Linked DNA regions of Homo sapiens. The protein of the gene in region 1 interacts with the protein of each later gene in a biochemical or structural test. Each region holds a gene or a part of one and is shown in the gene's direction. Other genes may lie near its edges.

Evidence for each region.
Region 2: the proteins of ERBIN (region 1) and NCBP2L interact in a test that uses a peptide from one of them, tested with the Homo sapiens proteins (one large-scale study listed by IntAct).
Region 3: the proteins of ERBIN (region 1) and HDAC7 interact in a test that uses a peptide from one of them, tested with the Homo sapiens proteins (one large-scale study listed by IntAct).
Region 4: the proteins of ERBIN (region 1) and FLVCR1 interact in a test that uses a peptide from one of them, tested with the Homo sapiens proteins (one large-scale study listed by IntAct).

The regions. Positions count from the first base shown.
Region 1 is NC_000005.10:66,079,811-66,083,046, forward strand, and holds the end of ERBIN (erbin), read left to right. Parts: 3' UTR 1-2,736; downstream 2,737-3,236. UniProt on the Homo sapiens protein: Acts as an adapter for the receptor ERBB2, in epithelia. By binding the unphosphorylated 'Tyr-1248' of receptor ERBB2, it may contribute to stabilize this unphosphorylated state.
Region 2 is NC_000023.11:107,784,233-107,787,732, forward strand, and holds part of NCBP2L (nuclear cap-binding protein subunit 2-like), read left to right. Parts: intron 1-3,500.
Region 3 is NC_000012.12:47,788,904-47,792,403, reverse strand, and holds part of HDAC7 (histone deacetylase 7), read left to right. Parts: exon of another isoform or gene 1-399; coding exon 400-533; intron 534-697; coding exon 698-818; intron 819-1,095; coding exon 1,096-1,145; intron 1,146-2,483; coding exon 2,484-2,591; intron 2,592-2,825; coding exon 2,826-2,881; intron 2,882-3,055; coding exon 3,056-3,143; intron 3,144-3,500. UniProt on the Homo sapiens protein: Responsible for the deacetylation of lysine residues on the N-terminal part of the core histones (H2A, H2B, H3 and H4).
Region 4 is NC_000001.11:212,864,775-212,868,274, forward strand, and holds part of FLVCR1 (choline/ethanolamine transporter FLVCR1), read left to right. Parts: intron 1-3,500.

The DNA.
Region 1 (3,236 bases):
CCACCAACTGCCTTTCTTTGTTCCTAGTTACTGTAACAAATATTTGATGATAGAGGTTTATTAATTTTGTTTATCCAGACCATTAATTTTATTTGTTTTTGTTCTATGTAATCAAATAAAATTTGAGTAACATGTAATGGTAAGGATTAATGCATGGTTATTTGGACCAGAAAAAAGTGCCATAGAAGACCAATAACTGTTTAGTTGAGGCTAGTCTGGAACCTTTCATTAGAGCAATATTTGGTTATTGCACTTCATTTTTATTTACTAAGAAATGCAATTTGGGAATTTTTAATCTGTTATGCTTTGTTTATCAACCTTGATTTTAATTAAGACTTTTATAAGACTAGCTTAAAACACCAACCAACATTATTTTTGCAAAAGTGAGTTGGACTCACTTTCCATTCTTGCTAGTCAGAGTAAGTAGGCAGCACTTTTAAAAATATGTGAACTCAAATATTGCACTTCTTTCAAGATGTTATCAATTGGTTATTGTACTGTATAGTTTTAATAATTTTGATTGAAACCCTTTAACAACTCTTTGTAAATTTTAACTCATTTTAGTTGATTTTCAGTACTATTTACATAGGAATTGATTTTTATGGATATAGTAGAAGAAATGTGCTGTATTTTGATAAAATTCACTTATTGTATGTGTGTTGTAATCTAAAAAAAAAAAGAATGACAAACAGCTTCTTTAAGACAAGTCTCGGTGTTCCCTTTATTCTTAGTTTGTTTTTAAATATTAATTTTGGCATTCTAAAATAGCTAACATTTCTTTTATTGATTTCAGATTTTCACAGGCACATTCTACTTTTAATCAGAAATATATTTAATAAGTATAATTGTGAAGTTTTCAACTACTTTACCTTGAACCACATATACCAATTATAATTTTGGAAAAGGAATTAAGCCTCACGGAACAATGGATCTTCAGCAAACCTTAACTTCATTGTCTGCACATTACATTGAAGTATTATAAATGCAACAGATGTTATATGCACTGGCATTTTATCCTACTCTAGTTAGTTAAAATTTTATAGTATTCTTGCAACACATAAAGTTGCGTAAGAAACTTTACCAAGAGGAGTATTATAGCCAAGTTTTCTTTGAAAGTATTGGAAAACTAAAATTAAATGACAAGGACTTTGAATTAGAATTTTGCTGTAATAAAGTTTCAAAATTTGAATAAAATAATTAAATTTTTTGAGGAAGTGGAGAAGACATTTTTAGTTTATATATTGTTGAGTAAATTGTAGTTAAGGCCTATACCCATAACTAACTTTAGTAAGTATTATATAGCAATTCATCAAAACCACAACTGTCTTTTAGTGATTTTGTCTTTAAGAGTAATTTCTTACTCTAACCAGTAAAAAAATAATACTGATCAGAGTAATTTATACGGCATACAATAGTTGATACAATCTAAAGATTTATGCTAATTAAGGAATTATCACTTCATCTGAATCAATGAAATTCTAAAATTCCCTACATATTTATTTTGTAAATATTCTTCTGACCTCTTTGGACTGGATATGAAGATATATATATATACACTTAATTCTTTTAAACACAAAACTTGCCATAAGCAGAACCAAACTTTTAAGTATTAATTTGCTGCACTTAAAAAATCCCATTAGCAGCTATGTAATATTTTTATCAACCAACATTTATTCATTCCAAATTTTTGTATATATCTAGATGAAGTAACACATAGAGGATAGATAACAAACTAATGATGTTTAAACTGGTTTATTTACAAAATTCGGGGTTAGAGAAATTCTCATGAAAAATATACAATTTTTTTTTAGCATTAAAACCCTGTATATCTAGGTGTGGAAGAAGTGTAGTTTATCTCAAATTATTATTATTTACTTCTAAAGGGAGGCATTAAGATGGGAAATGTTTCTCTGATGGAGATTGACGTGTGAAATCTATTTGGAAGGGTATTTTTTTCACTCAGTCTGTTGCATTCTTACAGCCTTCTGTTTTAATGTTCAGTGAATAGGTTTCTTATGAAATGGACATTGAAATAAAAATTATGATTCAAGAGCATTAATTGATGAACAAGTGAACAAGATGCCTCTTTAAAAAAAAAAAAGAAAAAGTAATCTAGACAGGCAGCCAACTCAGACCTTTGGGTATTCCTTTGTTTCTAAATAAGGACCTTCAGAAAAAGTTGACCATATTCTACCTAAAGCTGCTAATTCTTTACAGAATTCATAAGCCCAGGGGATAGTAAGTAGTCATTTAGTTTTGGAAAGTTCTTAAGAGAATGCTATCTTCTACAGTCTCATGAAGCAGTTTTTCAAGATTAGAATCTGTGGTCAGCTATAACGTACAGTCCTAATATCCAACCACCTGAGAAGCTCATCCTAAGCTGAGAAAGCCTAAAATGTTAGAGAATGTTTAGAGAAAACACCTGAAATTTTTTTTAAGAGAACAACCTAGGTTTTATTGTAGAGAACAATCAAAATACTCCTGAACCTTTCTATAGAATCTTTAGGAGAGAGGCTGACAAAAAGAATCCTTCTGTTACAACTTTCTTTTCTAATGTAACAACCAGGGACAATGGTGATCTGTCACGCATCTGCCCATCTAGCTTCTCAATCGGCCCACGGTTTTATTTCAGGATAAAATTTGAGAAACTAGTATCACTGGGGAAGGAAGAAACCTAAGCTGTAAAATTATGCTTTTCCCCTCAAGGGATTCAATAAAGCTTATTTTTCATGAAAACAAGCCTATAAATACTGACTTTCCTTAAACCTAATCAAATTGTGTTCCTCCAAGGTATAGCTTTAGAAGGATCTTCTTTCAGTTGCTCTTTCAAACTTTTCCTTGTTAGAAAAGAAAAACTAATACAAATTGTTAAAAAATTAAAGCATGAGCAGAGAGCATGGATTTTAGATGATTTTAAGTTTCCTCATCTTCATGAAAAGAAGAACCTAATACTCTGAGAAGTAATGCCTGTCCAGAATGCACACTAAACATCTCATATTTGGATCATCCTTCACTGCAGCATCCCTCAAAGGAACATTCATTCTCCCAAGAACAAGAGGAATTGTTTGCAGATAAATTATTCAAGGTAGCAAAATGGAGCATGCTTCAATCTCCTCATCCTGTCCACATACCTACAAAGGACAGAAAAGATTATTAATACTATGATAGGCAAGAGTGTTATGTAATAATAATATTACCAGTTTTGTAAAAAAAAAAAGGGAGTACACTGGATCCAT
Region 2 (3,500 bases), on another chromosome or scaffold:
TGTTTACTATGAGGAGTATGTAAGATAATGCATGACATGTTAAGTACTTAATATAGTGTCTGGCATATAATAATTGCCCAGCAACTGGTGGCAGTTGATAGTGTTATTGTTGCTGCTATCATTATTTTTAGGTTTGGCTGGACTGAGATAGATGGAATCTTCCATCTCTGATCTTTTGGGTCATTCAACTCTGCAATTTGTTACATGTTACATTATTTCATATTACATGAAATTACATATTACATATTTATATATGTAATATGAAATTACATGTTACACATTACATTTTTTCAGATATAATGTCTGCAAGCATGCTTATGTTCAGAACTTTTCCCGATAACAATCTCTGGCCCCAACCATAACAATCTCTGGCCCCAACCACCGCTACCACCATCACCAGCCACATGGTGTTCTCAAGTTGTGGTCTCCACAAAGCATATAGGAAATAGAGGAGCTGGGCAGATGCGGTGGCTCACGCCTGTAATTCCAACACTTTGGGAAGCTGAGGCGGGTGGATCACTTAAGCTCAGGAGTTCAAGACCAGCCTGGGCAACATGGCAAAACCCCATCTCCACAAAAAAAAAAAAAAAAAAAAAAATAGCCAGGTGTGGTGGCATGCACCTGTGGTTTCAGCTACTCAGGAGGCTGAGGTGGGAAGATTGCTTGAGCCTGGGAGGTTGAGGCTGTAGTGAGCTGTGATTGTGCCACTGCACTCCAGCCTGGGCCACAGAATGAGACCTTGTCTCAAAAACAAACAAAAGAAAGAAGGAAGGAAAGAAAGAAGGAAGGAAGGAAGGAAGGAAGGAAAGAAAGAAAGAAGGAAAGAAAGAAAGGAAGGAAGGAAGGAGAAAGAAAGAAAGAGAAAAAAATAAAATAGAGGAATTGATGGTAGAAGAAGTGGAACAGAGCTGTTGTTGCCTCTGAAAATATTTTCTTTATAGTAAAGGGATGACATTGGTTTTCTGATGAGCCTCTGTATTTCCAATCTAAGGACAGTTGGTAGAAGTGAATCAAAATCTTTCCCCAACTTTGTTGGGCACTTTTGCTGTTCTGGATAGGAGGGTAGAGTGTATGTAGATTATAAATATGTTCCTCAGTCCAACCCCATCTCCCTACAACAGCTAGCAGAAATTCCTTCTCCATTAGCAATTAACAGTCCCTTTTCCCCTATTTTCCGTAGCTAGTGCAAGTTTTAGTTTTTTGTTGCAAAGCTTCATGGATATTTTAATGGGCATTCCTAGATGGTGGGTATCAGACTGTGTTATCTTGCTGCCATGTTAACCCAGAGTTCCCCCAGATACAATTGGTTTTCTTGCTAACAACTTCAGGGAGAAGGCACAAAAGTCCTTTGCTTTTTCATGGTCCTTTCTTACTGTCTTTCCAGCCCTCTCCATCCTGGGGGCCCTGTTTTCACCAGTCATCTTATTTTACCCAATACAGGAGTCCTCATCCTTTTTGTAAGGAAAAACTGTGTTGTATATTCCTGATGCCTTGATCTCCCTGGGAAGACGGAAATTAAAGGTAGAGGGAAGTTTACTGAATCTGGGGGCTGGCTACCAGGGTGTGGGAGTGAAGAGGATTGGGGAGATGCTGCTTACTGTCTTCCTCTCTGAGCTGAGAATCCAGGTAAACTGCAGAGAGCAGGGCAGGAGAAGGGCGATCATGTTGGAGAGTTAGCTTGCAAGGCCTTGATATTGTTTGTAGATCCCAAGCTACCGATTAGGGGCCCCTGACCTAATATAGTAAAAAAAAAAATGGTTTGTGTTGTCATTGTGGCTATTTTTTAATATCCTTCCAGAGGTATATCTCCCTTCCTGTATTAGCTTTCTAAATCTTGATACTGTGCACGCAGATTGATCCATTTGCCCTACTTTCCACTCCTTGTAGCATTGTCAATTGTCTTTCAGCCACCTCTGGAATTCTGGACTTGGTTTACCTAGCCTTTGTGACCACTCCATATATTGACATACAGGGAGCCTCCAAGCTGCAGACAGGCTGAGCTCTCAAAGTTCACTCTCAAGTCAATTGTTTGGAAGGTGACATGCATTTTTCCATAGGAGAAAAAAATTGTTATAAATTGAACTACATTTCCAGACCAGCCCACAAAAGATGTTTTTAGCTTTAATGTACTAAAAATGTGGGCCATTTGCAATGACAAAGTAGGAAATCTTGGTAATTCAGCAAAAACAAGAAGACAATCCAAGGGAATAAGAAATACTTTTGCTTGACTGCTGGTACTGGAGTCAAGAAAGCTGAACTGGATGAGGTACACAGGGCTTTCCGGAGGCTCTCCAGAAAGACTCATGGGGACTTTGAAAGTCTGGAATCATAACATAGTTCTAAGTTTACTTCAGAACTGATGGCTTTCAATAATAATGACTACCACATACTGAGCACTTACTGTGTGTCAGGCGCTGTGTTAGGCAGTTTACATACCTTCCCCTCATTTCATTTCATTCTCACAACAACACTATGAGGTAAATACTATAATGACCCTTATTTTACAGACTGAGGCTCAGAAGGGTCAAGGAACTTGACAAAAGTTATACAGACAGCACAATTAGAGGCCAAGTCAATGGTTTCCTACTGCCCAAACCTGTGCTTTACAATATATATCTGACCACTCTTTTCTTTTCTTTTCTTTATCTGGATATATTGGGAACACTACTTTTGGGGCTATCAGCCATGATTAGAGTTATGTGCCAGATCACAAGGAAACTAAGATTGGGAAACTAGGAGAGGTGGTACAAGGGAGAGAAGGAAGGAGGAAGGGACAGAGAATTTTGTTAGGCAAAAGTTCAACTAAGAAACCACATACGTCAGTGCTTCTCAAACTGTACTGTGCACTCAAATCACCTGAAACTCGTTAAAATGAAGATTATTATTCAGCAGATCTAGGGAGGGGCCTGAGATCCTGCATTTCTAAAAAGCTCCCAGGTGTGCTGCTCCTGCTGGCCCACGGACAACACTTTGAACAGTAAGGCCATATAGTGCAAATGATAAACAAAAAAATTCAAGCATCCATTAACACCTGCTTCCTAATTTAATCCAGATCAGCTTCTACACTAAACAGTCACTTATTATCCTCTTTTCTCCTGTAGCCTGTCTCAGGCCATTGTCTCCGCTTTAGTTCTGCCAGTCTGTTTCAGCTTATGTTTGTTTATTTATTTATTTGTACAAATTTAAGGGGTTCGAGTGCAGTTTTGGTACATGGATATATTGCAGAGTGGTGAAGTCTGGGCTTTTAATGTAACCGTCACCCAAACAGTGTAGATTGTACCCATTAAGTAATTTCTCATCTCTCACCTCCATGACATGTTTATGTTTAACTACTCATTTAAATACAGGTGTTAAATACATATGAACATCTTCTGTCACTCTGAGCACTAGGCAGTCTCAATCAGACATGAATTTCTCTTGGCACAAAGTAGATATTTGGCCACAGGGTTCCAGTCCTCAACAATGGCTCTCAGCTCTCTCACCCATTAGGAACAGTCTTA
Region 3 (3,500 bases), on another chromosome or scaffold:
TCTGGGTTCATGACACGTGTGTGAGATGCTGTACGTTAGGCCTCATGCTTTGCTCTGAGCACTTGAGGGCCTGGTGCTGGGCCCTCGAGTCCTGGGCCACCCAGCAGTCGTGTCCGCATGTGGGAAGGCCGTGGCTCTGTGGCAGCCATGTTGGCTGGAGCTGTGTTGATGTGTTGGCTGCTGCCACCTGGGGAAGTGTCTGGGCGTGTGTGGACAGGTGTGAGGGGCTGGGGCTGGGGTAGGGGCAGGATGAAATGCAGGCCTGTGTGGGTGTGAGGGGTGTGTACCCGCCCGGCTCCATGTGGGTGCCTGCTGTGGCGGTGCTGGCGTGTTCTCTGCAGCCAAGGCCATGGGGCGTGAGGACTCCCTGGGTCCCCGCTCTGACCCTTGCTCCTGCAGGGCTGATCTATGACTCGGTCATGCTGAAGCACCAGTGCTCCTGCGGTGACAACAGCAGGCACCCGGAGCACGCCGGCCGCATCCAGAGCATCTGGTCCCGGCTGCAGGAGCGGGGGCTCCGGAGCCAGTGTGAGGTGAGGAGGCGCGGGTGGGGCCCGAGGAATGGGTGGAGGGAGGAGTCATGGGAGGGGAGGGGTGGGGGGCCCTGGGGCCCATGAGAGATGAGGGGCACATGGGGTGGTGGTGATGGGAGGGAAGGGGCGAGCATGAGCTCAGAGCTCTGTGGTCCCCTTTTCAGTGTCTCCGAGGCCGGAAGGCCTCCCTGGAAGAGCTGCAGTCGGTCCACTCTGAGCGGCACGTGCTCCTCTACGGCACCAACCCGCTCAGCCGCCTCAAACTGGACAACGGGAAGCTGGCAGGTAATGGCCTAGTGGCCCTGTCTCCCCATGCCAGCTTACCTCACCCAGCTCCCATGCACTCCTGTCTCGGCTCTGCCCGCCCAGCCAGCCTCCTCCTGCACCCTGGACGTCCCTACTCCAGCTTGCTGCCAAGCCCCTCCTCAGCCCACCTCCACCTCTCCCTTCCATATTTCTCTCCCCCAATACTCACCCGGCCCTGCTCTCTGGGCTCCCTGCTCCCTGTTGGGCCAAAGGCTGAGAGTATTCACGCTGACGTGGGCTGGGCCTCTCCCCGCAGGGCTCCTGGCACAGCGGATGTTTGTGATGCTGCCCTGTGGTGGGGTTGGGGTAAGTGTGCCCAGGGGTCTCAGGGGGGCGTTGCCAGGGCTCTCAGCTCTCCTCCCTGTGGTTCTCCCAGGCCCAGCCCCTGCAGAACCTCTGCTTGTTGTGGTTCTGCCAGACAGGGTGAGCCAGGGACTTCCTGAGGTGCCCCCTGCAGCAGGAAGCTCCTTTTGGACAGGCGTGTCTCGGACCCACAGTCTCCCCCGAATGCGGAGTCCAGCCTAAGCCTTCCCCTAGAAGGTGTCTGGTAGATGTTGAGTGAGGTTTCAGGAGCAGGGCCAAGGCTGGGGCTTAGGATCATCTCTCCCTTCAAAGACCCCCATGACTGGGCATTGGCCGCCAGGCTGCTCTGTCTGCTCTTAAGTGGCAAGTTGGGGTACCTCAGCCTGGTCCCCAGACCTTGGGCTGCCTGGTGTGACATCACGGTGGTGCTTCCGGTGTCCTTGGCGATCCCAGCACTCCCCACTCCGGGACATAGCCCCAAACTCCGCTCGCGAGCTTTGCTTCCTAAGTCCTCACCCCTTTGTGAAGGGAGCTTCCCGCTCCCTCCGGCTCAGCTCTCCTCGCCTAACACTATCCCTGCAGTAGTTTCTCAAGCAAGGTGTGTAGAGGCAGGGGATGGAGGCCTCATTCCGGAGGGAAAGTGGGAGCTGTAGCTGGTGGGGGACTTTGGGAGCCAGTCAGTGCCCTATTCACAACTTCCCATTTCTTGCCACTTTCTGGTTTTTCCAACTGTTGTTGCTTCTGTTTTCTCCTCCCTCCTCTCCCTCTCTGTCTTTCTCTCTCTCTCTCTTTCTCCAGCCTCTTGCGACTCTCTCTGCCTTCCTCGCCTCTCTTGGTCTGCCTCGCCCTCCCCATCTCCCCATCATGCCCCCCGGCCCCTCCCTAGCCTTGAGGCCCAGGGACTGGGTTTGGGGGGCCTCCCAGCCTGGGCTAGGGGCCCTGAGTGGAAGACAGTGGTGCAGACGGCCCCTCCAGCTCCGACCGTCCCGCAGGGCCTGAGCAGAGTCAGCTGGGGCTTAAAACCCCCTCCCGGCCCAAACCCCAAGTCCCGCCCAGGTAACGCCATGCCCCCTCCCCTGACCGGGGAGGCAGGCGTGATGCTGCCAGCAGAGTGCTGGCCAGATAATGGGCTGGTGCTGGGACTTAAGCTGGGAAAAAGTCATGCTGGGATTGGGGGACACAGGAGGCCTTGCCTTTGGGCGGTGGGGCACTGGGGAGGCAGCACTGTCTGCCCAGCTCCCTGCCCCTGGGGTCCTGGCCGTGGGGTGGGGACCACCCCCTTGGGCCCTGGCTCCTGTGTGAAGCCTTGGATGATGCGGGCCCTGACTCTGGCTCCCGCAGGTGGACACTGACACCATCTGGAATGAGCTTCATTCCTCCAATGCAGCCCGCTGGGCCGCTGGCAGTGTCACTGACCTCGCCTTCAAAGTGGCTTCTCGTGAGCTAAAGGTAGGAGGTTTGGGTTGAAGGTGGACACACCACAAAGGAGGAAGCAGAGTGGGGTAGTGGGGAATCCAGGCCCAGAACCCCAGGCATCGCATTCCTCTTAGAGATTGCTACAGGGTTTTGGAGGGGAAATTGAGGGCTCTGGGAACCAGGTTGAGATTGGAACTCTTGGGGTACGTTCATGCAGCTGTGGGTCAGAGCTGTCTGTTGATTGACAAGCATTCTTTCTTTTTCCAGAATGGTTTCGCTGTGGTGCGGCCCCCAGGACACCATGCAGATCATTCAACAGCCATGTAAGGCTAAGGGAAGACCTGGGTGGGATGAGGTGGGGGGCAAGCCCCCAGGAACTTCCTTCAGGGACATTCTCTCTTCTTCCCTGAGCTTTCTCAGGCTGGGCCAACCCAGGGGCCTGGGGAGGTGAGGGCATGTGGAGAGAATGGGCTGGCAGGACCTGTCTCTCCTTCCAGGGGCTTCTGCTTCTTCAACTCAGTGGCCATCGCCTGCCGGCAGCTGCAACAGCAGAGCAAGGCCAGCAAGATCCTCATTGTAGACTGGGTAGGTGCCTGTCCGTAGCACCCTCCAATTCGAGAGCCCTGGGGGAAAAGCCCTGAGCCTGATGTTAGAGATGCGGCTTCATGTCTTAGTTCTGCAGTAGCCTCTCTGAGCCTCAGTTTCCCCTTGTGTAAAATTTGGGTGAAGATAACACCCACATCACAGTTGGGAGGCCTAGAGGGGATGGCGTGTGGGAACGCATTCAGCCATCGCAAACCCCTGCAACGAGTAGGAGCTGTCATTTGAGTGTTGTCTTTTGACCTCTATTGGCTTCTTTTGGCAGATCTAGTAATTTCTGCATTTCCTGTACAGGTAGTGATGATAAGAATAATAGCAGATAACATCAGTACACCACTAATC
Region 4 (3,500 bases), on another chromosome or scaffold:
AAAATTCATATTTTGTGATCTCCAGATATAAAATTCTTAGTTTTCAAAGAAATGTATGCTGAAGATTCTAGAGTGTTTGGGTAGAGACTGCCTTGGTAGATGAACTGCAGGATCCAGGTACAGGAAGCTCAGCCCACATACTTAATTTCCCTTAATATAATGAGCAGAATGTTCTCTTGGTAACATATGAAGTATTCAAACATGTGTAATCCACTTGTTGGTTTTGGTTTTCAGTTAGTTATGGAGTGGCATATTTGTGATGTGCAGACTACTAAGAAGGACACATTATTCCTATCCTATTTTAGCAGTTTAGCAAAGTTTTAAAAGAAATTTGTATTCTTAAAAAAAAAACACCAAAATTCTTTTTTTTTTTATTATAAGTTTTAGGGTACATGTGCACAACGTGCAGGTTTGTTACATATGTATACATGTGCCATGTTGGTGTGCTGCACCCATTAACTCGTCATTTACATTAGGTATATCTCCTAATGCTATCCCTCCCCCCACCCCCCATCCCACAATAGGTCCCGGTGTGTGATGTTCCCCTTCCAGTGTCCATGTGTTCTCATTGTTCAGTTCCCACCTATGAGTGAGAGCATGCGGTAAAAACACCACAATTCTTAAGTCTGCTTTTCTGGTAGCCATGTTTGATTTGCTAGATGAAATAGGAAATACATTTTGCATAAATGGACCTTCCATTTGCAATAGGGATTTTTTTTTTTTTTTGAGACAGAGTCTCGCTCTGTCACCCAGGCTGGAGTGCAGTGGCATGATCTCAGCTCACTGAAACCTCTACCTCCCAAGTTCAAGTGATTCTCCTGCCTCAGCCTCCCGAGCAGCTGGGCTTACAGGCATGCACCACCATGCCAGCTAATTTTTGTATTTTCAGTAGAGACAGGGTTTCACCATGTTGGTCAGGTTGGTCTCAAACTCCTGACCTCAAATGATCCACCTGCCTCAACCTCCCAAAGTGCTGGGATTATAGGCATGAGCCACCAGGCCCGGCCAGCAATAGGGATTTTTAAAGTATAGAATTCTCTCTCTTTTTTTTTTTTTATCAAGACGGAGTCTCGCTCTGTCACCCAGGCTGGAGGGCAGTGGCGCTATCTGGACTCACTGCAATCTCTGCCTCCTGGGTTCAAGCAGTTCTCGTGCCTCAGCCTCCCTCCCTGGGATTACAGGCATTTGGCTAATTTTTGGGGTTTGGTTTTTTTTTTTTTTTTTTTTTGAGACAGAGTCTTGCTCTGTCAGCCAGGCTGGAGTGCAGTGGCGCAATTTCGACTCACTGCAACCTCTGCCTCCCACATTCAAGGGATTCTTGTGCCTCAGCCTCCCAAGTAGCTGAGATTACAGGCGCGTGCCACCATGCCTGGCTAATTTTTGTATTTTTAGTAGAGACGGGGTTTCACCATGTTGGCCAGGCTGGTCTCGAACTTCTGACCTCAGGTGATCTGCCCGCCTTGGCCTCCCAAAGTGCTGGAATTACAGGCATGAGCCACCGAGCCCGGCCTTTTTTGTGTGTTTTTAGTAGAGATGGGGTTTCACCATGTTGGCCAGTCTGGTCTCGAACTCCTGACCTCAAATGATCTGCCTGCCTCGGCCTCCCAAAGGGCTGGGATTACTGGTGTGAGCCACTGCACCCGGCCAAAATTCTCTTTCTTTTGATTACTTTTGTGTCTTCACATAAATTCTGATTTTCCTTTTTTTTTTTTTTTAAATCCTCTTCAATTGCTTGTCTCAGAAAGAAGTGAGAAAGTAAGAGATTGCATGTAAGATATCACGAAATCATACATGTGATGTGTGTATGTTTAAACTGCTACAAATAAAAGATCTTTACTTGTTGAAGGAGGGAGACCAAGAATGATAATAATAGGTATGACTATTGGCATATTACCCTTTGTTATTTGAGAAATTAAAAGAGATCTGATTATGTACTTAACTAATTATGTACTCATGGCCTACAGGTAGAGAGTGGAAATAGAAATGAGGGGAAAATAATGGGAAATATGGCATTAAACAAAGGCTCTTTGTCAACTTTTGCTTGGAGGACTCTAATTTTAATTTTATGATCCCAAGCATATTATAAAAGCAAGATAGTATACAGCTGTGATATGAAAGTCTTAAGTTGAAAATTGTGACATTTAAATAGAACACATACTTGTTTTCCTCATTCCCAAATATTTGCTATTGAGCAAACTTTGGATTACTTAAAAAAATCCATACCAAATAAAGTTCCTTAATTACTAAAAGGTGATTTTACTTCTCTCTGAATTCTATCCATACTTACTTTGGAAGTCCCACCACGTCCTCATAAAATAATTTAATTTTGTTGAGATTTTTCCGCAACGTGACATGTACTAAATTGATACTCAGCAGTCTGCTTAAAATATTTTCTCAAAGGTTCATGCCATGTAACTGTTCCTCTCCCTCATGGAGCTTATATTGAGTATAATCCATCTAGTGTTTCCAGGAATTAACCCAAGCATTCCACTGAATTTCACACTAATACCCTATTCCTATTAGGAGAACTCTATTATAGCCTCAAACATTTGGTTTGTTGGTATGTGCCAAACATGTTTGGAGGCTTACTACATGCTGTATCTCATTTAATCCTCATGACTCTGTGAGGAGGGTACCAATATTCCCATTTTATAGACAAGGAAACTGAGGCACAGAATTTAGTTAAATCTAATTTGTCCAAGGTTATAGTAAACACTGAAGGTCAGATTTAAGCCTAGACAATTTAACTCCCTATATAAAAGTTACAGATAAAAAATAACATTTTAATTTTTACTGAGCCTTATTTTTTGTTCGAATTCAGATTCTTGCATAAGTGGTAATGCTGTTGTATTTAAAAGCTGTTCTTGTGCAGCAGAGCAGTAAACTATGTCATTTAACTCATGTGTCAATTAAAATACTTTCCTGATTCACTAAAATGAGTGGATGACAGAAGCCAAAAGTAATCACAATAAAAATATTTAATATTAATATGCTTAAACACATAAGCATATAATGTGTGCATAATTTTACTTTTTTTTTTTTTTTTTGAGATGGAGTCTCGCTCTTTCACCCAGGCAGGAGTACAGTGGCGCGATCTTGGCTCACTGCAAGCTCTGCCTCCCGGGTTCACACCATTCTCCTGCCTCAGCCTCCTGAGTAGCTGGGACTACAGGCACCCACCACCGCGCCCGGCTAATTTTTTGTATTTTTAGTAGAGATGGGGTTTCACCGTGTTAGCCAGGATGGTCTCGATCTCCTGACCTCATGATTCGCCCACCTCAGCCTCTCAAAGTGCTGGGATTACAGGTGTGATAATTTTACTTTTAATTCTTTTTTAAGAGATGGGGTCTCGCCCTGTCACCCAGGCTGGAGTGCAGTGGCACAATCTCAGCTCACTGCACCCTTGATCTCCTGGCCAGCCTTAAGCAATCTTCCTACCTCAGCCCTCTGAGTAGCTGGGACTACAGGTGTGTGCTATCATGCCTGGCTATTTTTTATAT